4 linked regions of the Homo sapiens genome follow. The protein of the gene in region 4 purifies or fractionates together with the protein of the main gene of each other region. This does not show direct contact. Each region holds a gene or a part of one and is shown on either strand. Other genes may lie near its edges.

Region 1 (7,022 bases), on a different chromosome or scaffold from region 4:
ACATAAACCAATCTACTTAAAAATGCTTTGCAAAGCAACAAATTAGTGTCCATGTTATACACACATCACCACTCACCCACTCCTCTGTGAAAGATTGCAAGGGTGCCGTCAGCCAGGGCTACTAACACGATTCCCTTCACGTGTCTGCAAACAGGAAAGGGGAGTTCAGAACTCTCCATTCAGGAATACAGAAGGGACCACATGCTACTGAACTAGTTCAAGGCCTCACAAAGGGCCAATCTGTGATGAGTTAAGGAGCTGACACCTGAATATAAATGAACACACCACTTTCTTCACTGTGGATGTCCTGCTATGAAAAAATGTCAGCTGAACTAAATAAACAGTATGAATGGTATCTCAGTTATTTCACTTTCTGGCCCAAGGTTCTCCTCTCATCACAGACAATCAACACAAACTCTAAAGACCAGAGACATGCACCTTGAGTGGAACCAACAGAGTCAGCCCTGTAGGCTCAGAGATAAACTGTCTGATTTTTTTACAGTGAACACATAGAAAAGAACTAGTAATCAATGCCCCAATCAACATATTTACAAGCCATAAAGAATATTCTAAAATAAACATAACTTAATAGGTATTGGTTATTTCCTGCAGTGCTAAATAAATCGCAGTATGGTGAGGACTCAATCAAGCAAGTTATCCTTTCTACTTCGTTTTCTATTATACAGTTTCATTCTCACTTAACTTCTCTAGTTCCATAAAAAGGGTTAAAAAAACAAACAAATTGGATACTAATTTAGTCGTGAAACATGTATTAGCTTTCAAAGTCTTAAAATCTAGTTTATACCAAAATGCATAGTTTTAACAAGAAGAATTTCCAAAATAAAACTTACACAATACTGAGAATCGAATCTTTAAGTTTAATGGAATGGAGACATTTCCTCCACTGGGCTACAGATGAATGGACATACAAACTGTAAGAACAAAGTCAACACTGGTAAGGCATAGAGAACATCAAGACATTGCATATATCTAACAATGATCGCGAAGTTCATTCAGAAGGAAAGAAGAGTAACATACAAATTTTAGGAAAAGGTGCTGCTGCTTTTGTGCAATGGTCAGAAAAGAAAAATGAGAGTGAGGGTAGGCCTAAGGTAAAGAAATAGGCTGCTGAGCAAAGAAAAACATATGAAGACTGAAAAGCAAGAACTAGTGCAATGCACAGTCAGGTTCACACACTTAGTCCTTGGGCAAAACTCTTTTTTTGAATTGCCTTACCTCTCTACTACACTGATCTATAACTTTTGGATGACAGAGTGGCCCACATAGGGAGTGGCAAACTATGGCCTACAGGCCAGATCCAGTCTGCCACCTGTTTTAATCCAGCCTGCAAGCTAAGAATACTTTTTACATTTTTAAAAGTGTGTGTGGGGGGGAAATCAAGGGTATTTTACGACAGGGGAGATTTATATGAAATTCAAACTACAATGCCCATAATGCTCTACTGGAAGAGAGTTACACTAAGTTTGCCAACTCTTCACTTTATAGTATTGGACTCATATGAAAAAGACATACTACAGGTTGAGTAACCCTTATTTGAAATGCTTGGGATTTCTGACTTTTTCAGATTTTAGAATGTTTACATCATACATAACAGTTGAGTATTCCTAATTCAAAAATCCAAAATGCTCCAATGAGCATTACCTGCCAGCATCATAACAGTGGTCAAAGAGTTTTAAATTTTGGATTAGAGATGCTCAACAGTAATCTTGCTTAACCTTTGTAAATGCACAATTTTGTAAAACTCTCCACACAACCGGAAAGTGAACAAACCATATAATATTAGTCATCATCATCTGACTTTGCAGATTGTGATTTGTTTTACCTATCTTAGTAAAAAATTCACTAAAAGTTGGGATTGGGCCTTCCTGCAGCCAAAATGTTGGTTTAATCCCTGTTTTCCTGCCCACATTCTAGCCTACATAAATTAAATATTCTCTGTCTTTGTGCTGTTCAGGATCTTCTATTTCTGGAGCACCTCGATTTTAAAATTTTACATACCTCTTCTTCCAAGAATATTATAGAAAGGGAACATTCTGTGACAAAGAAACATATGGCTTACTATTCAGAACCAGTGCAAGTCCAGTTTATGTGGTAGTTGCAACATAACATCAAATTGTGTGTATATATAAAATTCTTTGCATTAATCCACACTTTTTGTATTTGTTTACCATATTTTACTTATCTTCTGATTTCAAAAGCAAAAGTAAAACAACATATTCTAATGTTAAAAGCATTGACACCTACCAGCCATTTTGAGCTCCAAGCCACATAGTTGGTAAAAGACTACTCATTTTCTGGGCTTCTTCTCTCACCAAGTCTTGTTCATTTGGCAGTACTGATATTTGATCTTTATATGCATCTGAGTCATTGCTGGAAAGGGAGGGCAAAAGGAAAGAAATCTGAGTATACTTAACTATCGTTATAGTTTTCAGGGACTGAATCCTTCTATATTTAAGTTTGTTCATTTGTTTATTATTTATTTATTTTTTAGAGATAGGGTATCACTCTGTCACCCAGGCTGGAGTACAGTGGCACAATCAGGGCTCACTGCAGCCTTGACCTCTCAGGCTCAAGTGATCTTTCCACTTCAGCCTCCTGAATAACAGGGACTAGAGGCACACACACTATCACACCTGGCTTCAACTTTTAGTCAAAAAAAAAAAAAGAAACCACCAAAATTCCAGAAAAGCCAAAGTCAAAAGCTTACATCACATATTTCAACAATTGTACCAGAAATAACATTAACAAACTAGGAAGCCCAAGGAGCAGAAAAGATAATAAGACATGGTAATGAAATACAGCAGTTAATATTCAGACAATTACTATGGCTGTCTCTTATTTTGGGTTTTGTCATAGTTTCTTCTCAAGTGAGAGAGAAGGGAGGGATACACACATACAAATAGTAGGGAGAAATATAAAGAATGACCTAAAATAAATTAATAAACTGAAATATGTTTAATATTCTATCACAAAACCTTTCCTTTGAATTGTCAGGGCATATTTAGTAAAAGATATATAACCAGGCTATCAAATTCAAACATGACTTATTCTTAAATTAATAATTCAGGCCAGGTGCGGTGGCTCACGCCTATAATCCCAGCACTTTGGGAGGGTGAGGTGGGTGGATTTCTTGAGGCCAGGAGTTCAAGACCAGCCTAGCCAACATGATAAAACCCCATCTCTACTAAAAATACAAAAATTAGCTGGGTGTGGCAGCACATGCCTTCAATCCCAGCTACCTGGGAGGCTGAGGCAGGAGAATCGCTTGAACCTGGAAGGCGGAGGTTGCAGTGAGCTGAGATTGCACTGCTGCACTCCAGCCTGGGTGACAGGGTGAGATTCCATCTCCAAAAAAAAAAAAGAATTAAATATTAACCCATTTATGCCGGAGGTTGCAAATTTTTTTTGTAAAAAATCAGACCTTAGCGATGACCTTGAGCAGTAGGATATGAATAACTCCCACAAGCTTAGCATTCCAATAATGGACCACTAGGCATAAATGGGTTATTAATTAATCTTTCTTACTTTATACACTAAGAATATTAAACTTTAAAAAGGATCTAGTTTAAAGAGACTCTCATCTAGAGGGGATCTAGAAAAGGCAGGAAAGAAAATAAAATAATTCACTAAATGGGCCTAGATTAACCAACCCTTTAACGGAGGAGCCTAAAACAAACAGTTTTCTTTGGTTTGTTTGTTTTCTGAGACAGAGTCTTGTTCTGTTTCCCAGGCGGCAGTGCAGTGGTGATATCATGGCCCACTGTAGCCTCCAGCTCCCAGGGCTCAAGCAATCCTCCCACCTCAGCCTCCTGAGTAGCTGGGACCATAGGTGCACGCTACCACGCCCAGCGAATCATTAAGTTTTTTGTAGAGATGAGGGTCTCACTATGTTGCTCAGGTTGGTCTTGAACTCCTGGACTCAAGCAATCCTCCTGCTCAGACTCCCAAAGTGCTGGGATTATAGGCATGAGCCACTGGAACTATCTGAGTTGTTTTTTAATAAAATATTTGCATGAAAACTAAATTCAAAAAGGTCATCCACACCCATGTGGGAAACTTGTACAATGGCAGATTTAAACAATGGCCAATTTTGCTGATAACTGGAGTGAAAATTAGAGTAGGGGTGGGATTAAAATGACAAAGAATTACTTATAGAATGGAAGACAGTAAGTACAAAAAAAAAGAAAAAAAAACAGATCAGAGGAGAAAATGAACAGAAAGATTTTGACTAATATATAGTCACACACCTGGTAAAACCATTTTGGAAAATGATGGACAGAATATATGGTGGTGGTTCCACAAGATTATACTACTATATTTCTACAGTACCTTGTGCATGTTTACATACACAAATACTTACCGTTATGTTCCAATTATCTACAGTATTCAGTACAGTAACATGCTGTACAGGTTTCTAGCCTAGGAGCAATGGGCTATACCATATGGCCTAGGTGTGTGATAAGCCATACCATCTAGATTTGTGTAAATGCACTCTATGATGTTCACACAATGATGAAATCACCTAATGACACATTTCTCAGAACATATCCCCATTGTTGACTGATGCATGATTATACTTTTATAGATAAGATTTTTTTTTTAAATTGGAAGGTGTACAGAAGAAATGGGGGGGAATATCCAGCGAGAATGATGGAGCGGGAATACATGAAATTATCACAAGAATAGGTATCTTTTAATCCACCACAGTGACACTAATTAGTGGAAATCTTTTGACTGTTTGAGATTATTTTGGTTCCTTTTATTTGTGCACTTCACCCAGTTGCCTAAGTTGATGACCCATTATTATACCTCGACTGATACACTGGGGAGAGGTCTTCTGGGATCTGAACTCCCAAAGGATCTGTAAAGACATGCTCTGTGTAGACGCCAGTTTGGGAGATGTCCACTGTGTCTTCAGCTGACCCCGCATTCCCTTCTGTAGCTTCAGTTGCTTCTTCTGCTGTTGGAACATTTTCATCAACCTCACTATTTTCTGCTTCCATTTCTACAAAGTAAATAAAACACTATTCCAAGTCTGGGCTTTTCTCCTCCAATTATTTCCCCACACAAACCCCTGTTATAGAATTCCATTCCATCTACCCACTCCTTCACACTGTACCATGAAATTAAGAATTCTTCATTCCATTTAACAGTCATTACAGCATTTTTTTTTTTTTTGAGACAGAGTCTTGCTCTGTTGCCCAGGCTGGAGTGCGGCGGCGTGATCTTGGCTCACTGCAAGCTCCACCTCCCAGGTTCACGCCATTCTCCTGCCTCAGCCTCCCGAGTAGCTGGGACTACAGGCACCCGCCACCACGCCCGGTTAATTTTTTGTACTTTTTAGTACAGACAGGGTTTCACTGTGTTAGCCAGGATGGTCTTGATCTCCTGACCTCGTGATCCACCCGCCTTGGCCTCCCAGAGTGCTGGGATTACAGGCGTGAGCCACCACGCCCGGCCTACAGTATCTTCTTTCAAGTTCTTTCAACCTTGTTACTTAAGATCTAAATTAAGTCCATAATGAGGCATCTGAGTGTAGCCTTAGACTCTATACAGATGGCAGGTAAAGAGAATGGATATACCTGGTGGTTTATCCATCACTGGAGAAGCACCATTTGTACTAGGGGAAGTGGCAGCTCCCGTCACACCTTCTGCAGAACAACCAACCACTGTGATGCCTCCTAACAGGCTGTCTGTCTCTGCTGAGCTGTTGCTTGTCATACTTCCACATAAAGATGCTTTGTCTACCTGACCAGATTCTGAAAGATCTTCTCCTGCAGGGTAGTCTGTTTCTCGTGCACCTGAAAAATAAATCTTCTTGTAACAGCAAAGTAAACTTCTATAAATAACATTTTTTTTACTAAAACAATTACAGGTTTGAAATGAGAGTTATGCAGGTGAGATGTACAGGTAGTTGAATACAGGTAGCATTAAATTTACATAAACAAATCTTCACAATATGGGAAGGTAACTTAAAAAATTAAGAAAATACTTCTATTAACACAAGTGCAAATAAACATAAAAATGTCAGAAAATAAACTTTTTTTTTTTTTTTTTTGAGACAGAGTCTTACTCTGTCGCCCAGGCTGGAGTACAGTGGCATGATTCAGCTCACTGCAACCTCCGCCTCCTTGGCTTAAGTGATTCTCCTGCCTCAGCCTCCTGAGTAGCTGGGACTACCGGTGTGAGCCACCACGCCTGGCTAATTTTTGTATTTTTGGTAGAGACAGGGTTTCGGTATGTTGGTCAGGCTGGTCTTGAACTCCTGGCCTCAAGGGATCCACCAACCTCAGACAAGTCCTAGGATTACAGGTGCGAGCCACCACGCCTAGCCAGCTTCTGTTCTTAGTGAGCTCCTCAGCAGCCACAGGTTAAAAACAATCTATTATATCTGACAACATCAGCCAAAAAAAAATTCTTTTAAATCATCAAGACTACTGCTACTACTTGAAGTATAAGCTTCTATCCATTACTGTTAAAAATTAAATGCCCCAAGTATATAGGTTGATTAAGATATTAGTAAAACATTAAAAACTAAGCATTTATAATATAAAAATATTTACAATATAAAAATAAATCTCATTTTTTAATTTAGAAAATTGTTTTATTTATATCACACTAAAAACTTTTATTGCAGTAAAAATAATATATATATAAACAAAATTTGCCACTTTAACCATTTAAAAGTGTACAATTCAGTGGCACTAATATTTACAATATTGGCATTAATATTTATAACATTGTGTAGCCATCACCATTATTTTTTTTTTTTGGCGACAGAGTTTCACTCTTGTTGCCCAGGCTGGTGTGCAATGGTACAGTCTCGGCTCACTGCAACCTCTGCCTCCCAGGTTCAAGCAATTCTCCTGCCTCAGCCTCCCAAGTAGCTGCGATTACAAGCGCCTGCCACTGCACCTGGCTAATTTTTGTATTTTTAGTAGAAACGGGGTTTTACCATGTTGGCCAGGCTGGTCTCGAACTCCTGACCTCAGGTGATCCGC
Region 2 (7,767 bases), on a different chromosome or scaffold from region 4:
TACCTGAGAAGGCATTTCTAAAGTTTACATTGCAGTCCTGAGTGATGGTGATATTTGGAGCAATAATTTCCTCTGGCCCTTGAATTTTTGCCTGAAAGAGTGGCTCAGCAGCTCACATTGTACATGTGAAGGTTGTTTTGGAATGTTAATGGAGAGACCGATTCACACCAGATGGACTGGAAGACCAGTGAGGTGGGGAGGATGTATACACTGGCCACCATGATTCAGCTGTAAGGCTGGCTTTTTAAAATGCACTGACAGTTGGAGGTCAAGGCGGCTGACATTTGCCCAGGTTTTCTCTGCAAGTTTTTATGTTGCTTTAGCAAATCTGAATCTTGGTCCTGTTATGAATTAGTCTCTTTTATGATATTCAGTTCATGGACAACGTTCCGCTGGCATATCCTAAAGTCCAAAGCAGCTTTGACGGGCAGTGTCCTATGTCAAAGTTCAGATATGAACTCATATCAGTGTTTCTTAAGCTTAACAAAAACATAAAAGAAAAATTAAAATGGAAAAAGCTACTCATATCTTCTGTGTGTCTTTATCAGCCAAGAAAATCTTGCCTGGATCCATTCTGTAATTTATAATATACAAGGAAATGGCATTTTTGTGTTCAAATATATAAATTAAATAAGTCATATTAACAGTGGCATATATAGGCTGACTCTAAATGGAATGTTTTACATATATGATCTCTTATAATTATGATACCTATCATTACTGGGCCCTTTTGACAGGTGAGGAAACAGACCCAGAGAGGTATGTCCCAGGTCCCCTGAGGTGGGCAGGGAGCAGCTGAGCCCACTTGAGCCCTGGTCCAGCTGACCCCATGCTCTCTGCTTCCTCCTGTTGTACTTTTCTCATTCTTGGTCCTGATGCATCCCCCAGGGCTCACTGCCCTTAGCATCTGGTCCATCAACAATTATCCTCAGTTTCTTCTGAGCTGGGGGCCAGAGGACTCAGCTGCCTCCCCTACCCATGCTGTGCATCATGTCCAGCCCTTTCCACAGTTGGTAGTTATAGCAGGTGACAGAGTGCCCTGGCTGTCTGGTGCAGTTAGCTGGGCCTGCCTCTGGACTCTGACTTCTATTTGCATGAATGGATGTGGTGGGGGTTTGTTTGGGGGCTGAAGAGCAGAGAGGGAGTCTGTTGGCAGGGAAGCGTGTGTGGGGCTGTGGGTGAACGGGATCCCGGAGAGGATGAGAAAGGCCTGAAGCTGAGGAGGCTGTTTTCCATCAATGTTTTGCTCTCTGCGCCAGGCACCATCCTAGGGTCTGGGGGCTCTAAATGTGGACATGGCTGGTCCCACTTTGGAGAGCTGGCAGCTAGAGGGGGAGGTGGGTGACCTGAAGCTGGAGAGACCTGAGTTCTGGTCTCAGAGGTCTAGTCTCAGCACTGCAGCTTCTGAGCTCAGTGACCTTTCTGTATCTCAGTTTGGTCATCTGTACAATGGGGTTAACAATACTACTGACCTTGGAGTTGTTGTGATAAGTGCTAAGATAGGAGTGATGGGGGGTTGGGCACAGAGGAGAGAGGAGGGGCCTCATGTGATCTTGGAGGGCTAGGTGGTGTCCTGGAGGAAGTGCCATCCAAGCTGAGGCCTGTAGGAAGAGACAGGGTTGGTTACCTGGCAAAACTAGAGGAGAATCGGCTTCCAGTGGAGGCACTGGCTCTTTGGGGACCTGAGGGCAGGCCCTTGAAGCTGGAGTGACCAGCAGGAAGGGAACTAGAAGGTGGTCACTTGGCTCTGGGCTGGGCCACTTTTTAGGACTTGAGTATCCAACCGAGATGTGTAACATTCTCTCCACCAGCTACCACAGTCTACAGCCTGTGGAGGGTGTGGAGGGTGGAGAAGAGATGGTATAGAGGGTGCTGCAGTGTACCCACAGAGAGCACTGTGAGGAGGAGTCTTTGGAGGGGAGCTTGAGGGAACTTGGTACAGAGCAACCTCCCAGGAGTCTGGGCGTGCCCTGAGACAGCTGGGGCTGTGGAAAGGCATGAGCCCTGGGGGTCAGCAGAATGTCTGTGTGCTGGGCTGTGTTCCCGCTTCACTTACTGATTCAGCCAGTCAAGCATCAAGGATTTATTAAGTGCCTGCCATGTACCAGGCGCTGTTCTAGACACAGAGATGCAGAACTGGCAACACAGTCCACGATCTTGCTCTCCTGGGACTTACTTCCCAGTGGGGGCGAGGCAGCAGTTTTAGATAGAGTGTTCTGGGAGGAGCAAGCCACGTGATTGATTCTCTTGAAGGATGTGTCCGGGGGAGTGACCCCCCAGGTGGGGCCTGTGTGTGTTTGGGCTTTGGGGGGAATGGGAGAGTGGAAGGAGCTGAGGTCACTGAGGCATCAGGAGGCCAATTTGTGTAGGACCTGGTAGCAGGAGAATGACATGCTCTCTCTCTGGCTGCTATTGGGGAAGAAGACTCCAGGGAGGAAGGTGGGAACCCTTCCTTGATGTGGCGTGCTGAGCCTTGAACCCCAGCCTTGCTGCTGATGGCCAGAGGATGCCTGAACAGGTGCCTCAGCCTTTGAATGCTTCCTTTTCCTCTCCTGCAAAACCGCAAGGGCCACCATGAGAACTAGGTGAGACCACAACAGCCCCTCGCTGGCGGGCTGGATGGTGTGCTCAGCAGGGCGCGTTGTAATTAGTGTGATGAGCATGAAGGCCGTGAGGGCAAATCCCAGGCAGAGTGTGCGCTGCCTTTCATGCTCCCCTGCAAATCAAAAGTGTTCTGCTCTCTGCCCCCAGCACTGGGGCCTGCATGTCACCTCCCATCCTTCTCACGCACCCTCATGTCACTGTGGCTGGGAGTCCCATGAGGGCACGTGGCGCCCAAGGCCCTTCCACAGCAGGAGGCAGATGTGCAGGGGCTACGGGTTTCTGCTGCTTCTGACAGGCTGTCAAGGCCAATGTCCTGATGCCCTGGTCTGATGGGGAGGAACGAGTGCCTTGAGGACACTGAGGAGGGCCCCCCTGGCCAGCATGGGTATGCAGGGGAGCCTTCCTGGAGTTGGGCAGTCCATGATGAGAAGGAGAAGTTCTTAGGTTGCTGGTGGTGGTGAAATGAGAGGACGGGTGATCCAGGCATCAAGCACATTTTCATGTCTTTGAAATACCAGCATAAGAGAAGCAGGGGTGGGTGAGAGGGATTGAAGAATCAGAGCGGCTGTAGCTGGAGCTGGAGTAGGGTGGGGACAGACCAGATCACAAAGCATGGACTGAAGGGGTGAGACAGGAGGGCGGGGGAGCTGTGGGCAGGCTGTCGCAGGCACGTAGGCAGGAAGGGCCCTCGGGGGCCATCAGTGACTTAATGATTTTTACCATGTGCTAGATCCCAAGCTAAGCATGTTACATGCATAGTCTATCTAATCTTCAGTTTTATGAAGTGGGTTCTCCTGTTATACCCATTTCGCAGATGAGAATATTGAGGCTCAGATAGGTTAAATAACTTGACTGTGGTTTCATGCACAGCCAGGAACTGTCCATTTGGGATTTTTAATGCAGGCAGACAGAAGACAAGTTTTGTGTTTTGAACTTGTCACTCTGCCATCACCTTCTGGTCTCCAGGCTCTCGCAGCAGCTCTCTGCCCATTCCGTCATCCATAACGCTCTCGCAGCAGCTCTCTGCCCACTCCGTCATCCAGAACGGGATTGTACGATGAAGCCTCCCCTAGGTGATCTTTGGGAAATGCCACCCATCTCTGGAAGTGAGGGATGCTGGTGGTTACAGCTGGGTGGGAATCCCAGCTCCGCGACTCACCTGCTGGGTGTGATATTGTAACCCTGCCGATCCTCAGCTTCCTTATCTGCAAAATGTTAGTTATGGGGAGGAAAGGAGATAGAGGTAAAGCACCAGGCAGGTAGCACAGTGCCAGGCACCCGGAAACGACCCAGTGACGGTGCTCCTCGGATTCCTATTACTGCCCTCGTTTGCCAAGGCAGGGTGGTGACACCGCGGACCCAGGGGGTGCCTGGCCAGGCCCAAACAGGTGCCAGCGGCGCGTGTGTGTGGAGGAGCTGGGGACAGGGAGTATGAATCATTCACAACTGAAGCCTTGCATTATTAATATCGTTATTCTCAGACTTCTAAGGAGGGCCCAGCTGGATCCCATATATGGAAGGCGCGACTCAGCCTCCGGGGCAAGCACCTCCCTGGGTCCGGAGTTGCCATGGAGTCCCGCAGGCGGCCTGGAGGCGGTGCCCCGGGCTCGGCCCCCGCGCAGGTCCTTGGTCTGCGGCCTGGGTCCTGCCCGCGCCGGGGTCCACCCAGCCCGCCTTTGCGCCGGCCCAGGGCCGCTCCCCTGGGACCCTGGGGGACAGACAGAAGCTGGTGGGGACTGGCGCGGGCGTCCTCGGGAGAGCGCCGGGCGCGCTGGGCTTGCTGAAGGGCTCCAGGCCTGGCCATTCGGTGACTTCCAAAGAGGGGACGCGCCGCGGGGCCCCGAGGGCCTGAAATCCGCTCCCGCAGCGCAGCCCCGGGCGCGCCACTACCCCCGCCGCGGTCGACTGCGGGGCGACCGCTCGGTCCCGAAGCCGGGAGAGGAGAGGCCGGGCCTCGGCGGGCCGCTCTGGGCGGGCGGGGAGCGCAGCTCCGGAGCCAGGCAGTTCCCCGCGCCCGCCTTCCCCGACCTTTCCCGGCCGGCCCGAGCTCGGAGGGGCGGGGCGCCGGGCGGGCCGGGGCGGGGCCCGGGGAGGAGCCGTGGCTGCGGCGGCTGCCGCGTCAGAGCAGCGCTCCCGCTGCCCGGCGGCTCAGACACGGCCCGAGCGCCGCCGCGGACGCGGACAGAGACCCGCACGGGCACGGGCGCTGCGCTGGAGGCTCCCCTCGCGGTCCGGGGCTGCGCGACCATGGCGGACAAGGAGGCCGGCGGCAGCGACGGGCCCCGAGGTGAGCGCAGGCTGCGGGTCCTGCGGCCGCGGCTGGCGGGGCAGGGAGGGAGGAGGCGCGCTTGGCCCAACGCTCCGCACCCCCTCGCGCGCCGTGGAAAAGTGGGGACGCCCGCGCTGCATCCAGTTCTGGCGGGCGGGGCCGGGGTCAGCAGCAGCGGGGCCGGGGGCCGGGGTCCGGTGGACCGGAGACGGCCCGCGGGTCACATGTTCTGCGCCCCGCCAGGGTGCGGACTCCGCGGCGGGGACTGCAGCCCCCGCTGAGGCGCCTGGTTGGTCCCTGCCTCGGGTGGCGCCTCCTGCGGGGCTGGTCGCGCGTGCGGGTGAGGACCGCCCCGCGTGTGCAGCCCCCGCGCGATGGGCTGCGGAGGCCGGCGCTGGCTGGGTAAAGGGCCCGCCGCCGGGTGGCCGGGTGGCCCCAGCGGGTAATTTTCGTGACTCAGCGAGGCAGGAGTGGGAGCCTGGGGGAAATCGGAGATTTGGACCTGTTCCCTCGCCCCATCCCACCCCGGCCGGACGCTCGAGCCAGGAGTGGGGGCTGCAGCTGCGGCCGAAGGGCTTCTCACCCACCTCCCCGCCCATCCCCAGGGACTCACTGGGCTGGGGAAGGGTGAAGCGGCGGGGGTTCGATGGTCCCTTCCTTGCGGGGGGCAGGGGGAGGCACCCAGTGCGGAGGACAGACGCTCGCATTTTGCAGATGTGCTAGGGCCGCTTTCTTTGGGGAGCGTGATTAGGGCTCCGAAGGGTGGGGGAGCCGGAGAGGACGGGGAAGGGGGTTGCGGGAAGAGGACGAGCAGGTTTCGGAGCCCAGGGCTGTAAATCAAGGCTTCTCCCACGGAGGGCCCGGCTGGCCAGGATTCCAGTCTTCCTGTGGGTCCCAAGTGGGGAAAGTTGGGCGCATGGAGGCGCCGCGCGTCCCTGACCTGCAGGGCCTCGGCGAGAGCGGCCGCCGGGGAGAGGAGCGCGGCCCAGGCATCTTTCCCGGGAGCGACAGGCAAGCCGCCTGCGAGGATGATATTAAAATGCCGGGACGCAAGGGAGATTCAGCCACGAAACGAGCGCTTGGCTCTGCGGGGCCCCAAAAGCTGGAGAAACTGAGTCCAGTGGCAGCACAGCCACCATCTGCGCTGGGTTCCCTGTCTTGCTGTCGGGCCTGCGGCCCCCACCCTCTGCTGCACTCCAAGCCGCACCTGCCCCCACCCCAGCCCATTGTTCCTGCGGATCAGGGAGGTGCCTCCCCACGCGGCACTGCAGTGGTGGGGGAGTGCAGGGTGGCGGGTGGGGGATCCTGACAGGGCTCACTCCAGGGAGAGGCAGCGGAGAGCCCAGGCCGTCCCCAAACACACACCCAGTCCCCGCCTGTACTCTTCCTCAGCTGGTGAACGCAGGCAATGGACTGGCAGCTGTCTTTGTCTGAACATCACTCAGCAACTGGATTGACTCTTTTTTTTTTTTTTTTTTTTTTTTTTACTTTTTTCCTTTAAGTCAGAAAATAAAAAAATTTTTAGGACGATAAGTAGGGGCGTTGAATTGCTAAAGCCTGAGAATTACTGAGCCAGTTTCTTGCCTCTCATGCTGGGATAGGGTGGGCGATGATACCAAATACAAGGTTGGGCATAGGATTTGTCAAATCAGAAGTGGGCAGGAATGTGTACCCACTCCCCACACCTTTCCCAACACTGTTTTGTCTTGTAAATCAAATTCAGCACCCCTATCCTAACACACACACACACGCACACACACACACACACACAGACACACACACACACACACACACACACACACACACACACGGTGCTGGGAGAAATCCTGTCCAGGATGGGGACACCCATACCTGGTGTGCCGAGCCACCTGCCACCGCTCTTCTGCGTTTGTTCTGGAGTATTTGTTTCTTCACTTCCAGTCATCTCCAGCTCAAGGTGGCCAGTGAGAATTCCAGGTGCATGGACTTAGGACAGAGACCAACCTGAAGAGCGGGCTGTCCCTGGCAGCTCACTGTGCCTCTGGGCACCTCTCCCTTTATCTGTAAAATGGAGGATGTGAATAGTATTGCATAGGAGCAGAGTTGGCTTGCCCCTGGCCCCTACACTTATTTCTAAGGTTTCCTCATTGCTGGGAAAAGAGCGTGCATTATTTTATTGTTTTAAAGGCTCACAACAAACCTGTTACCAGCATTCTCCCCTTCCTGGGTGGGAAATCCAAACACAGGTTGAGTGACCTATCCAAGGTCACACATCTGGGAAGTGTTGTTTGGGACCCAGGCCATCTGATTCCAGGGCACCAACCTGTGCATACAGCCCTTATGCATGTGTGCAGTGGTTACCACTCTATTAAGGACATAAAAAAATGGTTGTGCTTCCTGGGAAGGATTTCCAGAATGTTTTTGGTACAAAAGGATGGGTGCCACAAATATCACACTGTTGGAATTTGTGAGCAGTGGCAGTCCTGGGTTGGGGAGGGGTTTGCTGGTGGGTAGGTGGTGTTGGGGGGTGGTGTCAGAAAGGCTGGCCATGAAATCTTCTCCAACAAGTGCAGTTGGGGTGGGGTGGGGAGTGGGCAGAGGTGCGTGCCAATGAAACAAGAATGGCAAAATGTGGTAGTTGGGTGATGGGGAGCGGCGGTTCATTACTATTCTGCTTACTTTGTGTATGTTTGCAAATTTTCTTAATAAGATGTTTAAATTACTTAATTTACAAAATCTGAAGGGCCACACTTGAGGGTCTGGGTGTTGGACAGCAAAATTTGAGATGACCTTCAATCCTGCCCCCTCCCGCATGACCTGAGTGGGTTGACACATGGAGCCCTAGAAGGGTGAGATGAATTGGGGGTGGACAGAGTGGTTCGGACAGGGATGGCTCCTATGGTGACCAAGTCAGG
Region 3 (7,022 bases), on a different chromosome or scaffold from region 4:
AGGAGAAATAGCCTTTCAGTGGTAGTAAGTTTAAAAAAGATGACTTCCTGAAGCGGAAGCTTGTGAGACATTTAAGATGACTTTGCGCATGTTAGAGTTAAAAACATCCCAAGGTTGTAAACTGATTTCCTGCAAAGATCTTAACAACAACAACAACAACAAACTAGGCTGCCTGCCACGGGTGTCTGAAGTATCATCTTGGCTCAAGCTGGGAGAATGGATAAAGGTTACACTGTTCATTTCTGCCCTTCACACAGAAAAGAAGATAATTTTATAGGTAAAATTCGTGCATATCTTGATTCTAGCATACTGCTGATTCCTGTAGTTTCTGGGGTCAGTACTCTCAACTATTGAGGTGGAACAAAAATAAGTAGACTTCATTTCTTGAGGAAGGGGATCTGGAGAAGTAGTTCTGCGCTAGAGCAGAAAATGCCTTCAGTCTTGTGGCATGGGCTGGATGCTGTTCTGAGGATAATGCATTTCCAAGGGAGATATTTTTGGCAAATAGCTTTTTTTTCTTTCTTTTCAAAATTCTCTGTTTTATTATCAGTTCTCACAAAAGAGTCGGAAAGGTTAGAGGTAGACTGAACTGAATGGCAAAAACATTTTGCGCTCTCTTTACGTTTCACTGCTGTAAAATATTTATAGTATAAAGGGCCTGTATTGCACTGAATTTCTCTCATTTGTAGCTAGTTGCCCTTTCAATGTTCCAAAAAAAAAGGCTGTAAATAACTTATTTTATTTATTCAATTAATTTTTTTTTTTTAATTTTTTGAGATATAGTTTCCCTCTGGTCACCCAGGCTGGAGTGAAATGATGCAATCTCGGCTTACTGCAATTTCTGCCTCCCGGGTTCAAGCAATTCTAGTGCCTCAGCCTCCTGAGTAGCTGGGACTGCAGGCACGTGCTACCATGCCCGGCTAATTTTTGTGTTTTTAGTAGATATGGGGTTTCACAGTGTTGGCCAGCCTAGTCTCAAACTCCTGACCTCAGGTGATGTGCCCACCTTGACCTCCAAAAGTGCTGGGATTACAGGCGTGAGGCACCATGCCTGGCCAACTTAGTTATTTAAAGATAATCAATTAGTATATTTTATAAGCTAGACTTAGGAAAACGGTTTTCAGCTGGGCATGGTGGCTCACACCTGTAATCCCAGCACTTTGGGAGGCCGAGGCAGGTGGATCACGAGGTCAGGAGTTCAAGACCAGCCTGGCCAAGATGGCGAAACTCCGTCTCTACTTAAAAATACAAAAATTAGCCAGGCGTGATGGCAGCCTCCTGTAATCCCAGCTACTCGGGAGGCTGAGGCAAGAGAATCACTTGAACCTGGGAGGCGGAGGTTGCAGTGAGCCGAGATGGTGCCACTGCACTCCAGCCTGGGTGACAGAGCGAGACTCCATCTCAAAAAAAAAAAAACCCCCCCACACACAAAACCTGTTTTCTTGAATCATGGTTGTTTTGTTACTGATAGGTTCAATAAGTAAATATATTTATTGTCTGTTGTATTCTTTATTAGGCATTATAAACACACCGCCACTTTTTAATTTTTATTTCATTAATGTTTCCAATTTTTTTTTTTTTTTTTTTTTTTAAGACAGAGGCTCGCTCTGTCATCCAGGCTGGAGTGGAGTGGTGCAGTCTTACCCCACTGCAACCTCCACCTCCTGGGCTCAGCCTTGTAAATAGCTGGGACTACAGGCATGCACCACCATGCCTGGCTAATTTTTGTATTTTTTTTGGTAAAGACAGAGTTTTGCCATGTTTCTCAGTCTGGTCAAGCACTCCTCCCGCCTCGGCCTCCCAAAGTGTTGGGATTACAGGCATGAGCCACCATGCCTGGCCTATTTCTAATATTTTGGTCCACATTGGTGTTAGACCAACTGTCCACATTAAGTTTTCTTGGAAAAGATGAAGTAAATATTGCAACTGGCCTATGTATTTTTTTCCCTATTTAGTATATTTCTTTGACTAGTTCAACTGATAGAATTCCAAGACTTAAAAAAGTCAGGCTCTAAGGCTGGGTCCAGAGGCTCATGCCTGTAATTCCAGCACTGTGGGAGGCCAAGGCTAGTGGATCACTTGAGCCCAGGAGTTCAAGACCAGCTTGAGCAACATAGTGAGACCTTGTCTCTCTATAAAAATACAAAAATTAACTGGGGATTGTGGCGCATGTCTGTAGTCCCAGCTATGAGGAAGAGTGAGGTGGGAGGATTGCTTGAGCCCAGGAGGTTGAGGCTGCAGTGAGCTGTGAGTTTGACACTGTGCTTCATTCTGGGTGACAGAGCAAGAACCATGTTCAAAAATAAAAATAAAAAGTCAGAGTCCGGGTGCTGCGGCTCATGCCTGTAATCCCAGCACTTTGGGAAGCCGAGGCGAGAGGATCACTTGAGGTCAGGAGTTCGAGACCAGCCTGACTAACACAGTGAAACCCCGTCTCTACTAAAAATACAAAAATTAGCCGGGCATGGTGGCGGTGGCCTGTAATCCCAGCTACATGGGAGGTTGAGGCAGGAGAATCACTTGAACCCGGGAGGTGGAGGTTGTAATGAGCCAAGATTGCACAACTGCACTGCATCCTGGGCGACAGAGTGATACTTCATCTCAAAAAAAAAAAAAGAAAAAAAAAGTTAGGCTTCCTTTTCTGTTTTTTTTTTTTTTTCTTTCTTCTCTTTTTTTTTTTTTTTTTAAGAGATGGAGGCTTGCTCTATTGCCCATGCTGGAGTGCAGTGGTGCAATCTCGGCTCACTGCCACCTTTGCCTCCTGGGTTCTAGCAATTCTCCTGCCTCAGCCTCCCGAGTAGCTGGGACTACAGGCGCACACCGCCACGCCCCGCTAATTGTTCTTTTGTATTTTAGTAGAGACGGGGTTTCACCATGTTGGCCAGCCTGGTCTCGAACTCCTGAGCTCAGGCAATCCGCCCGCCTCGGCCTCCCAAAGTGCTAGGATTATAGGCGTGAACCACCGTGGCTGGCCACTTACTTTTCTTTCTATTGAATTTGAATGAATAATTTGGAAGACAGTATCTTTACTTCATACCAGGAATGCTGCCAGTGAAATTTCTTGTTTGGCAGTTCATTATCTACCTATATATTTAATTTTGCTATTGTTTATAGAGTTCTTAAGATATGATTAAATGCTAGCTGGTTAAGAAATCATTTAGAAATGAAACAGAATTGGTTGTTACTCCAAGTTAATAAGTTGCTTGTCAACATAAATCCTACCTGGTACCCAGTTTTCTTAGGAACCTTGCTTCCATGTTTATCCTTTTCTGCTTAGTATTCTAAGTACTCCTTTTTTACCTTACAATTTAGTCTTAAAACACAACACAGTCAAGTCTTTCTTTTGTAACCTGTGAGATACCTTCTAGCCTTTGTGCTGTTTTTCTTCTCTTTTTGCTGCCTGCCTTCCTGACTGAGAGTGGATTTCCTCACTAAGGCTCTGCCCTCTGATTTTTCACTCTCTTTTCTTTTTTGGTTTTACTAGTGAAATTTTGTCTTTAATGTCTCTTTCTTTTATGTCTTTACCGATCACTCATAGATTTTTTTTTCCATATGTATCCAGTTCCAACCTTTCACCTAATGTGAACCCCCAACTCTCAGTTGCTCAGCCAGCCCTTCAAGACTAGGAGTTCAAAACCAAACTTGCATCTTCCTTCCCAAACCAGCTTTCCTCTTGCAGTTTTCTGCAGCAGGATCCTTCTGCTGTTTAACTTTTGCCTCCTCCCTTGTTTCCTAGCACCCAATAGTTGGAAGATAGTCTGTCTTCAAAATTTTAAACTACATTTATGTCCAAACCAGTGGCTTTTCCTTTTAAAAAAATTTAAAGATAATATGTGCAAATCATTTTTTTAAAATTCAAACAGTATTTAAGAGTTTCAGTGAAACATGCATTTTCCTTCTACCCTGGTACTTAGTTTTACTCCCCAAGGGCAATCACTTTTTACTGGTTTTTAGAAATATATCCTTCCTGAGATACTTATGAATATCCAAAAGTGTGTGTGTTGTGTATATCACCTTTTATATATCCTGTCTCTTTACGTGCATGCATTTTACCGTATAAACTGTTTTCTACCCTGCTTTTTCTATTTGACCTATTTTGGAAATGTCATTTTATTTAGAACTTCCTCATTTATTTTAACAGCTGCATAATTAGCAGTAAAACTTATGTAAGCAGTCCCTTGTGAAGGGCTGTGTCTTTTTGCGATTATATCCGGTGCTATAGTGTACATCCTTGTGTGTGCATCTTGGTGTGCCTGTGCTACGTATTTCTGTAGGATAAATCTGTAAAAGTGGAATCACTAGGTCAGAGGGTATGATCCATTTTCTTTACTTATTTATTTTATTTATTTATTCATTTATTTTTGAGACAGAGTCTTGCTCTGTCGCCCAGGCTGGAGTGCAGTGGCATGATCTTGGCTTACTGCAAGCTCCGCCTCCCGGGTTCACACCATTCTCCTGCCTCAGCCTCCGGAGTAGCTGGGACTACAGGCGCCCGCCACCCACGCCTGGCTAATTTTTTTGTATTTTTAGTAGAGACGGGGTTTCACCATGTTAGCCAGGATGGTCTCGATCTCCTGACCTTGTGATCCACCCATCTCAGCCTCCCAAAGTGCTGGGATTACAGGTGTGAGCCACCGCGCCCGGCCCCATTTTATTATCTTTATTTGCTTGGATCCTTCTTAGCTTCTTCAATGTTAAAGATATTGACAGTTTTCCTCTTACTGAAATTTATAAATCCATTGACTCCCTTGATATTATTGCCCTGGCCTGACTGATTCTTCTCTCTCCTTTCTCTTCTCACCCCATGTTGAGGTCCCCAAGGTCACACCCAGTTTTGATGACTCACCAGCATAGAGTTGTACTTGTGCCTATGATTTATTGCGGTGAAAGGATATAGAGCAAAATTGCAAACGGAAAGGCACCTGGGGTGAATTCCAGGGGAAATCCAGTGCAAGTTCCAAGGTCGCCTCCCAGTGGAGTCACATAGGATGTGCTTACATCCTCCAGCAAGGAGTTGTGACAACACTTGTGAAATGTGGACTGCCAGGGAAGCTCATCAGAGCCTCAGTGCCTAGGGTTTTTACTGGAGGCTGGTCACATAAGCACCCTCACACATATCAAAAAATTCTGGTCCCCCAGAAGGAAAGCAGGTGTTTAGCATAACCATATTATTTGCATGAACAGTTCAGGTACAGGAAATCCCCGTTACCAGTTAGGTTGGTGGGTGCCCTTCCCAAATCCCAAGTTCCCAGACACCAGCCAGGGGCCTGCCTCGTAAGGAGGCCTTTCCAGGACAGCAGTCAGGCCTGCCAATGTTAATTCTTTTCTGCATACCTCCTAATTTTAGAAACCACCGAGCCTTTGCTGCCTGACCTGTCCTGCTTTTCGATTTCTTTATCTACTTTGATATCTTTACAAATGATCTTTACCCTGACTTTTAAATGTGTGCTCTGGCCATTCACCTAGCGTGTGGTTCTGAGTCTCCAAGTCTTAGCAGATTTGCTCTCAGATGCTCTGCCAACGCTTCACACCAAGTATTACAAACTAAACTCGTCATCTTCCTCCTGAAACCTGTCTCCCAGGCCAGGCGCGGTGGCTCACACCTGTAATCCCAGTACTTTGGGAGGCCGAGGTGGGTGGATCACCTGAGGTCAGGAGTTCGAGACCAGCCTGGCCAACTTGGTAAAACCCCATCTCTACGAAAAATACAAAAAAATTAGCCAGGCGTGGTGGCAGGCACCTGTAATCCCAGCTATTCAGGAGGCTGAGGCAGGAGAATCGCTTGAACCCGGGAGGCGGAGATTGCAGTAAGCCGAGATCACGCCATTGCACTCCAGCCTGGGCAACAAAAGTGAAACTCCATCTCAAGAAAAACAAAAAACAAAAAACAAAAAACCTGTTTTCTCCCCAGCTTTGTCATGTATTTAGTGGCCTTATGTAGACAGTTTCCTTTGAAACATCTCTTGGACTTCTCTGCTCTTCCAGGGCCATTGCCACTGACCTGGAATGTGTCCTTATCGTTTCACGCCAGGCTTATGGCAGCAGTCAGTCACCCAGATGACCTCCTGACCTCTGGCTTATTTCACCCCCACTGGACTGTTGTTCCTAAACACTTCTTTCGTATGTCACTCTAAAATCTGACCCTGGCTGTACCTTTCTTTAACTACTCCCTGACTGCGTGCTGAGAGAAGATGGGTCTTGTCTTTTCCTGCCTCTCTGCTTTTGTAAACTGCCATTTCTACCTGAAGTGGCAACTGAAATCATATCTTCTTCATAAACTGTCTTTGGCTACCTCAGTTAGAATTCCTTATCCCATTTTCCTGAAGCATTTCTTTGACTCTTCTTTACTGCTCCCCCACCCTTTTTTTTTTCTTTGAGACTGAATTTTGCTTGTTGCCCAGGCTGGAGTGCAATGGCCCGATCTCGGCTCATTGCAACCTCCGCCTCCTGGGTTCAAGTGATTCTCCTGCCTCAGCCTCCTGAGTAGCTGGGATTACAGTCATGTGCCACCATGCCCGGCTAATTTTGTATTTTTAGTAGAGATGGGGTTTCTCCACGTTGGTCAGGCTGGTCTTCAACTCCCAACCTCAAGTGATCTGCCCACCTTCGCCTCCCAAAATGCTGGGATTACAGGTGTTAGCCACTGCGCCTGACCCCCATTTTTTTTTTTTTTAAAGATGTTGAATTGGTCAGGGTTTGTAGTTACAAGCAACAGAAGCCAACTCTTTAAGCAGAAAAGGAATTTGCTAAATGATAGTGCAGAGTTCTCAGAATCTCTAGCAGGATGAAGAACCAGGCTTGGAGAATAGGTAGCCACAGATACACAAGCATACTGTAGGACGGTTCCCATGAAGAGGCATCTGTTGTCACCACTGGACACAGATGGTACTGTGTCTCTGCTACTCTACCAATGCCACTGCTGTCTCTGACCCCAGATGTAGCTCCCTCTGACCCTGGATGCAGCTCCCTCTGACCCTCGATATAGCTGCCCCTGACCCCGGATGTAGCTGCCTTTGACCCCA
Region 4 (7,439 bases):
CTTCAACTCCTCCAAAACCCAGTTCCCTCCTCTGGAGCCTTCCTTGACCTCCCCGGGTGGGGCTGAGCCATCCTGCTCTCCGCTTCCCACATGCCCACCCGTGCCATGTGTTACAGCCCCTACTACATGTTAGTCATGTTTGTGTACAGGGTTGCATTCTCAGCACAGTGCACCGAACCTAGCACACTCTGCCTATTAGGGTAGATATTATTGAATAATAATACATAAAGGCATGACTTTGGGGTGAGCTGCCCAACTTGAGTCCCAGCTGATATTCATAGAACCGCACCACTTGGCAGTCAGGGGTAACCCAACCTTGGAGAGAAAATCCAACCACTTCTTCATCTATGCAGCATTTGAATGTCATGCACCTGTTTGGGGTCAGACACCACCATACTGGGCACTGGATTCCAAGATGAATTAAACACTGCTTCGACCCACAAGGAACTCAGAGGTCAGTGATTAGAAAGCCCAGGTAAGAGCATCCCTGGCTCCTTATGTGTAGGAGCTGTGGCTCCAGGATGGATACATGTGTGCACTCATCTTTTCTTGGGGGATGTGGTAGCGGACGCTTTGTCTCACCCCTAGATGTTGTGACTGGGGATCAGTATTACTTAGAATGAGGGTCAAGAGGACTTACTGAGTCTGCACATAAGGATGCACTTAGGTAAACAACATCACCAAATTGCACCTGGGGCAGAGAATTATGGCCCCTAACATTGACAGCCAGGGGCCATGGAAAAATGTGTAACCTTGTGCCATGGGTTCCTGCGTAATATCTTCCAGGTGACATTCATATTTGCATTCAAGATCTGTATCTATAGATCTGTATCTGTATCTATATGTATGATGTTGTAACTGAGGGAAAGGCCCAAACTGGGCTTGCTCTGTTGATAACAAAATGTCACGTTGCTCCAGCATAAGCAATAGAAAATAGTTGGAACTCTAACAACAACCCCAAAACAATGAATTCTCCCTTGGAACTAAAAAGACTAAGAGACTTGATGGGAATCCGAATGCCAGAACTCTCTCAGAAGCCAGACGTACAATGGCTTGGAAGATGTGGGGCTAAAAGTCCGCCTCAACATACCTTTCTGTAAATGGTCAAATTTAAAGCCCTCCAATCAGATTCTGCCAAGCCAACATTCCTAAATCTTTTCATTGCCTTCTGATCCCATAAATTTACCCCAGGCCTCAAACTGGGGAGACATTTTTTCTTTTTTTTTTTTTTGAGATGGAGTCTTGCTCTGTTGCCCAGGCTGCAGTGCAGTGGTGCAATCTCAGCTCACTGCAGCCTACACCTCCCAGGTTCAAGCAATTCTCCTGCCTCAGCCTCCTGAGTAGCTAGGATTACAGACGCATGCCACCAAGCCTGGCTAATTTTTGTATTTTTAGTAGAGATGGGGTTTCACCATGTTGGCCAGGCTGGTCTCAAACTCCTGACTTCAGGTGATCTGCCCACCTCAGCCTCCCAAAGTTGTGGGATTACAGGCATGAGTCACCGTGCCTGGCTGGGGAGACAGATTTGAATTCACTCCTGTCTCTTTGCTGACCAGTTTTGCAAATAAAGCCGCTGCTTTTTCCAAAGCTAGTGCTTCATAGTATTGGCTTCTGTGCCCATGGGGCAGCAAAACCATTTGCTTGATAAAAATGCGGTGGCTCTCGCCAGTAATCCCAGCACTTTGGGAGGCCGAGGCGGGCAGATCACCTGAGGTCGGGAGTTCGAGACCAGCCTGACCAACATGGAGAAACCCCGTCTCTACTAAAAATACAAAATTAGCCGGGTGTGGTGGCAGATGCCTGTAATCCTAGCTACTTAGGAGGCTGAGGCAGGAGAATTGCTTGAACCTGGGAGGCGGAGGCAGCCTGGGCAACAGGAGCAAGACTCTGTCTCAAAAAAAAAAAAAAAAAAAAAAAAGTGATGTGCTGTTCTTGGTGGTCTGAGTAAGTAAAGGATGAATAAGAAAGACGCCATGTTAAAGAAGCTGAATGTCTGCTAGGAGAGCTAACGCATGTATACAAATAACCAAAATGCAACAAATCCCAGAAGGAATGATCCTGCAGAAACTTCCTGATGAAAAGCTTCAAAAACAGCACCCATAAAGTGCTTTGGGTTTCAAATATAAGCTCAGGTGTTCTGGGCTGGCGAGCTTGCTAGTTAGAGCACAATGCTAAATGGGGCCAAAGGCACAGGCCAGTTACCTGGGGGTAGCTCATCTCAGTGGCCACCAGTGACCTCAAAACCCAGCCAGCCTCATTCCAGAAAGCCACGTTGTGCATAAGTTGAGGGGGGCTGTTGGATACTGGGGAGAGTCCAGCACAATTGTAACTTTTCTATGTCTTCTCTAAGCCCAGATGTCTGCTCTCATTTTAATTTTGCATGATCTTGTAATGGCACCAATCCCAAATCATGTGAATTTAAAATGCCCTAAGCTTCAAAATATACGCTCTCTCTTTATAAAGTTAACATGATTGCTTCTGAGTTTTTAGATAAATTGAATGATTGAGTGCAAAAACACTGTTTAAATCAGAGTGCGATACACATTTTTTAAAATCCCAGTGTAAAAAAAAATATATATATATATTGCTTGGTTTCAGAAGAGAAACAAGCCTTTTGTTGACATGATATCAGGGGAACAGTACTAAAAAAACATCAAAGATAGTCACACACACAAATATCCCAGAGTATTCATAGGGAACACCCTCTGTCTTTCCCATATGCGGTGTGGAAAACGGGGCCAGAACGATCCTGCAGAAACTTCCTGATGAAAACAACCCCGTCAGCCCTTCCCAAGCTTGAGGCCGGCTGCCACGGAACCCCAGCCAGGGCTCCAGCGCTTCCTTCGCGGCTCCAGGGACGCAGTGCCCTGCAGGCATCGCCTGCTTGCAGCCGACTTGAGGGGCTCACGGAGTCCCCTGTGCCCGGGACGCGGCTAGATCCTGGAGAAAACCCCTCCACCCAGCCCCATCTGGCAGATAGACTCCAGATTAGCAACCCCGGAGTCACGTGAGCCAAATTTACGCCGTACCCGGGTTCCAAGGTTAATCACCCCTCGCCCCCTCCGCTTCCCGGCTCCGCCGATGTGCCTCCTCTTCAGGCGGGCCTGGGGTCTGCGTCTCCCAGGCAGCTTTGGGGGTGGAAAAAAGGAGGGGAGCGGGGGAGGGGAAAGGAACTTCTTTGTTCTTTCACCGGATAAACTCAGTTTACGGAATTCTCCAACACCCACTCCCACCCCCAGTGTGCAAATATCTCTGATCCTCACTTGGAGGGCGAACTACTTCATTCATTGAGACTTTTGTGTTCCTGGCCCTAGGCTAAGTATTATCTTGTAAGATCACATTTAAGTTTCCCAACAACCCCCTGAGGTAGGTGTTATTATCCCTATTTTACAGATAAAAAGAAATGAGGTACTGAGAATAGCTTGCCTAGGGTTTTACAATTAATAGATTGGCACAGTTAGGTTTTGAGCCCCAGCCTGTTTTGACCCAAAAGCCCTAATCTTTATAGCTGTTCTTTATATAGCAGGAATAAGAGTAATAACCACTCCTTGCAGAGCAATTACTATATTCCAGGCACGGTGCACGGTATTTCTCCAAACTTCTCTCAGAGGCAGGTTTGCCACTTACCCGTTATGTGGCCTCAGGAAGTTTCTTAACCTCTTTTTGACTCAATTGCCCTGTCTGCAAAATGAGGCTAAAAATATGGTTGTCATGAAGAGTAAAAGAATTAATATATGTAAAGCCTGGCACACATTCATCCCTGAAATTGTTGTTGCTGTTGTTTTTTAACCATCATCTCCATTTCACAGGTAAGGAACCTACCCTTGGAGAGGTGAAGGAGTGAATTAGTCCAGCTTGCCCGCTGCACACCTAGCTGCAGAGAGACCCCGCTCAGAAGCCGTGCGGGATGGGGGCCCCACAGGCAGGTGAATTGCACTTGGCAGGTGGGAGATGAGCTTCTCCGGGGTCGCTGCAGAACGCGCAGCAGCCCGGGAGGCCGTGAATGGTTATCAGTTACCACGCAAGGCTGGGGGTCCGCCCGCTCCGGATTTGCTCGTAGTGCGAGGGCCCCGGCGGTGTGCTGGGGGATCCCGCCGGGCCCACTTAGAAGCACTCGGGGGGACACACCTGTTCGGGACACCTGTGGACGGGGCCCGGCTGCACCGCAGGAGCCCCCCGCCCTGGCCCCCGCGCACACACAGCCCCCCAAGGCGCGGAGGCCGCCGGCCCTCCCGCCCGTCGCGCTCCAGGGCGGAGTTTCCTCCTCTGCTCATTGTTCACGGCCCAGCGCCCGCCCAGCCCCGGCCCCGGCCCCGCCCGGCCCGGCCGCCGCCGCTGGCGGGCTCCTGGGGGAGGGGGAGGGGCGGGGGCGGGGGCGGGGGCCGGCGCTGACGGGACGGGCCAGGAGTAGCCGCAGCCGCCAGTGGGGCCGCAGCCGCGCAGACGCCGCCCAGGACGCAGCCGCCGCCGCCGCCGCTCCTCTGCCACTGGCTCTGCGCCCCAGCCCGGCTCTGCTGCAGCGGCAGGGAGGAAGAGCCGCCGCAGCGCGACTCGGGAGCCCCGGGCCACAGCCTGGCCTCCGGAGCCACCCACAGGCCTCCCCGGGCGGCGCCCACGCTCCTACCGCCCGGACGCGCGGATCCTCCGCCGGCACCGCAGCCACCTGCTCCCGGCCCAGAGGCGACGACACGATGCGCTGCGCGCTGGCGCTCTCGGCGCTGCTGCTACTGTTGTCAACGCCGCCGCTGCTGCCGTCGTCGCCGTCGCCGTCGCCGTCGCCCTCCCAGAATGGTGAGTGGCCGGCCTGGGTTCCGCCGGGACTCCCACCGTGCCCATGTGCCCCCTGCCCGGCCGAGCTGCAGGGAAGCCCGGCGCGCCGCGTGGTCCGACCCCGAGCAGCCCTATCACCGCCGGGGTCACACACGGAGCCCTGACCTTGCACCATCCACGCCCCCTCCAAACTCCGCAGCGCGGCAGGTGCAGGGCCTGGGCGTAGATTCGTCTCCACTCTCCACTCGGGAGGAGTGGGCGGTGGATTCTGCCCGGGCAAACAGGGGCGCGCCGGTGCTAAGTGGGTTTGCATGGGAAAGAAAAGGGAGACCGCACCGCGAGGCTCCACGCTTCTGCGGGACTCTCGGGATCTGATTACACCTTTCCTTCGTGTTGGAGGGAATGAGGGGCTGTAGTGTGTATTCGTTAATTCCAGGCAAAGAGGCAGGCGAGAGGCTCCCGAGGAAGTCCCTGAAGCAGGTGACAAGCCTCCAGCCACGGCCCACGCGGGCGATGTACTTACCCGTTTGCAGAGGTTTTTTCTAAGTAATGTGTGCAGGCTCAACTCCTTGAGCCCGTGCTGGGGCAGGTACAGAGTCGTAAGTGGACCTTCCACAGTCCCAGAGTCACCTGGCTGAGTGGGGGTCCTACCTCCGTGTCCCTAAAACAATCGCTTCTTAGTGCGTGGCTACGATGGTGAGACCCCCCTCGAATCCTCTTGTTCAAACGGGAACTTGTTCAAACGGGAACTTCTCTCTCGTAGAATAGGATTGGGCTGCATTTTAGACACACCTTAGAAAATGTACCTGTCTCTCATGAAACACCTGCACCTCAGAAACATCCCCTCCCTGTTTCTTTTCAAGGTGAAATGTTACTCTTTCCCTTTTGGGGGACAGGCGATGGCTGCAAACTCAACCAGAACAGGTGTTCTTAAGCCCCTAGGGAACAGCCAGAGTCAGCTCAGCCCCACGGGAGAGGTGCATTTCTCATTCTCTTTTGCCCACCTGAGCACATGTCTGCAGGAAGAGCTGAGGTGGTGTGATCACCCTAGGGCCAGGAGGACTGCGGGGACAGCACAGACAGGGTAGGGATTCTGCTGTGAGCAGGTGCCGGCAGTTTGGGACTGGACTCTAAGGGGCCAGGGGAGATGGAAGGGCAGTACAGTCTCTCCTCTGCACCGCAGGAAACCTTTGGTAGTGGGCAGGCGCTGGCACTCAGGGAGCAGGCAGGCGTGGGCATCCTCCTGTGGCCGGCGGGAGACTCCACCAGCCTGACTAGAAAGGGAAGGTCCCGGCGGGGGGAAGAATGTGTGTCCCTGGAAGAGGGGCTGCAGTGTGAGGAACAGTCAGAACAGCTTTCAGAGTGGCAATCACTGAAGAGCCACACGACATGCAGGGTTGAGATGACACGAGAGTATGGTGGCTCCTTAGCCCTACTCTGGGGACAGCTGGACTTCAGGGTGGGCCTTCATACGAACCTTTTGTTGGGAAGCCTCTTAGAACCACCCAGAAGGGCGTTGGGCTGTGTCAGGAAAGAGGGGTTAGTCCCTAGTGCTTCTGAGCTTAAGGAAGCTGAGCCACCCTTCCTTTGAGGAGTGGGAGGCACTGTGGGACAAGACCCTCCCTGTCTGCCCTAAAAGGAAATGTTCATAAGTCACCAGTGGGCAAAGCTCTGACTCCAGCTCACTGCTGGCTTCAAGGATGGCACTGTTTTTCCTGGCACCTGGGCACTGCCAGAAACCATGTCTCTTCCATGAAGCACCACTTCTGGCCTAACACAGGGTTTGGCACATGGCAGAAGTTTGGTATGTGGCAAACAAAAATGACCATAACCCAGTGCCTGCTCTAACCAGCAAGTAACTTGGCCTATCTGAGCACTGTATGCATTATAGTATGCAGCACTGTTGGGAAGCACTTAGAAAAGTGCAAAGTGCTAAGTGGGGGATGGGGAGAGGATGATGATCATGATGGTGATGATGATTTGCATGTATTGAGGCCAGAAAAGGCTTGTGGGGGGCATGTTGCGGCAAGATTGGTCTGTTCAGTAGCTATGGTGCATTCTACACCACCCTCTAGGGACTCAGTAAGGCCAGCTCCATCCCTGTCCTTCTGAAGGTGTGGTCGCCTGGGCTGCTGTCATCGGGAATAGCATAAACACTGCCCCCCATCTGCTGGAATCCTGTGATTTGATTCAAAGCAAGAAAGATTTATAGCTCGAGTCTCTGCAACAAAGGAATTATCCCCAGACAGGTCCATCCCTGCCCCTCTCCCCCAGCTTACCTTCCAATATATGGGCAGATTATGCAGCCTACAGCAAAGAAAGCATTCACCTTAAGGGTTGGACAATTCATCAGACCCCCTTTCAGTGCTTTTTGGTTTGATAACCATCTGGCAGAACCACAATGGTAAGTCACATCTCCGTGCCTCCGTTTCGTTATTTGTGAGATAGAATAAAAGAACCAAAGGGACCTCTAGTTCCACCATGATAAGATATCTGGGGTTCCGTGTTCCCTCAGCTACTGAAAGGACAAGCTGATTCAGTACTCTCAATCTGATGTTCAATGGATGAATTCTGGGCAACAGAAAGGCAGCTTGGTGGGGTGGAAACACTCAGACTTTGGGTCAGAGAGATGTGCATGACCATGGACAAAATAGTGGACCTCCCTGAAC

What was found.
Region 1: the proteins of PODXL (region 4) and SPAG9 purify together in Homo sapiens (co-immunoprecipitation; 3 studies listed by BioGRID and IntAct, with this or other methods). This does not show direct contact.
Region 2: the proteins of PODXL (region 4) and HSPA12A purify together in Homo sapiens (co-immunoprecipitation; 3 studies listed by BioGRID and IntAct, with this or other methods). This does not show direct contact.
Region 3: the proteins of PODXL (region 4) and LGALS8 purify together in Homo sapiens (affinity purification with mass spectrometry; 3 studies listed by BioGRID and IntAct, with this or other methods). This does not show direct contact.

Annotation. Positions count from the first base shown.
Region 1 is NC_000017.11:50,984,847-50,991,868, forward strand, and holds part of SPAG9 (C-Jun-amino-terminal kinase-interacting protein 4), read right to left. Parts: intron 5,823-7,022; coding exon 5,604-5,822; intron 5,027-5,603; coding exon 4,831-5,026; intron 2,392-4,830; coding exon 2,266-2,391; intron 933-2,265; coding exon 852-932; intron 145-851; coding exon 77-144; intron 1-76. UniProt on the Homo sapiens protein: The JNK-interacting protein (JIP) group of scaffold proteins selectively mediates JNK signaling by aggregating specific components of the MAPK cascade to form a functional JNK signaling module.
Region 2 is NC_000010.11:116,739,554-116,747,320, reverse strand, and holds the start of HSPA12A (heat shock 70 kDa protein 12A), read left to right. Parts: upstream 1-4,754; 5' UTR 4,755-4,851; coding exon 4,852-4,891; intron 4,892-7,767. UniProt on the Homo sapiens protein: Adapter protein for SORL1, but not SORT1. Delays SORL1 internalization and affects SORL1 subcellular localization.
Region 3 is NC_000001.11:236,526,979-236,534,000, forward strand, and holds part of LGALS8 (galectin-8), read left to right. Parts: intron 1-7,022.
Region 4 is NC_000007.14:131,553,612-131,561,050, reverse strand, and holds the start of PODXL (podocalyxin isoform 1 precursor), read left to right. Parts: upstream 1-4,422; 5' UTR 4,423-4,691; coding exon 4,692-4,791; intron 4,792-7,439. UniProt on the Homo sapiens protein: Involved in the regulation of both adhesion and cell morphology and cancer progression. Functions as an anti-adhesive molecule that maintains an open filtration pathway between neighboring foot processes in the podocyte by charge repulsion.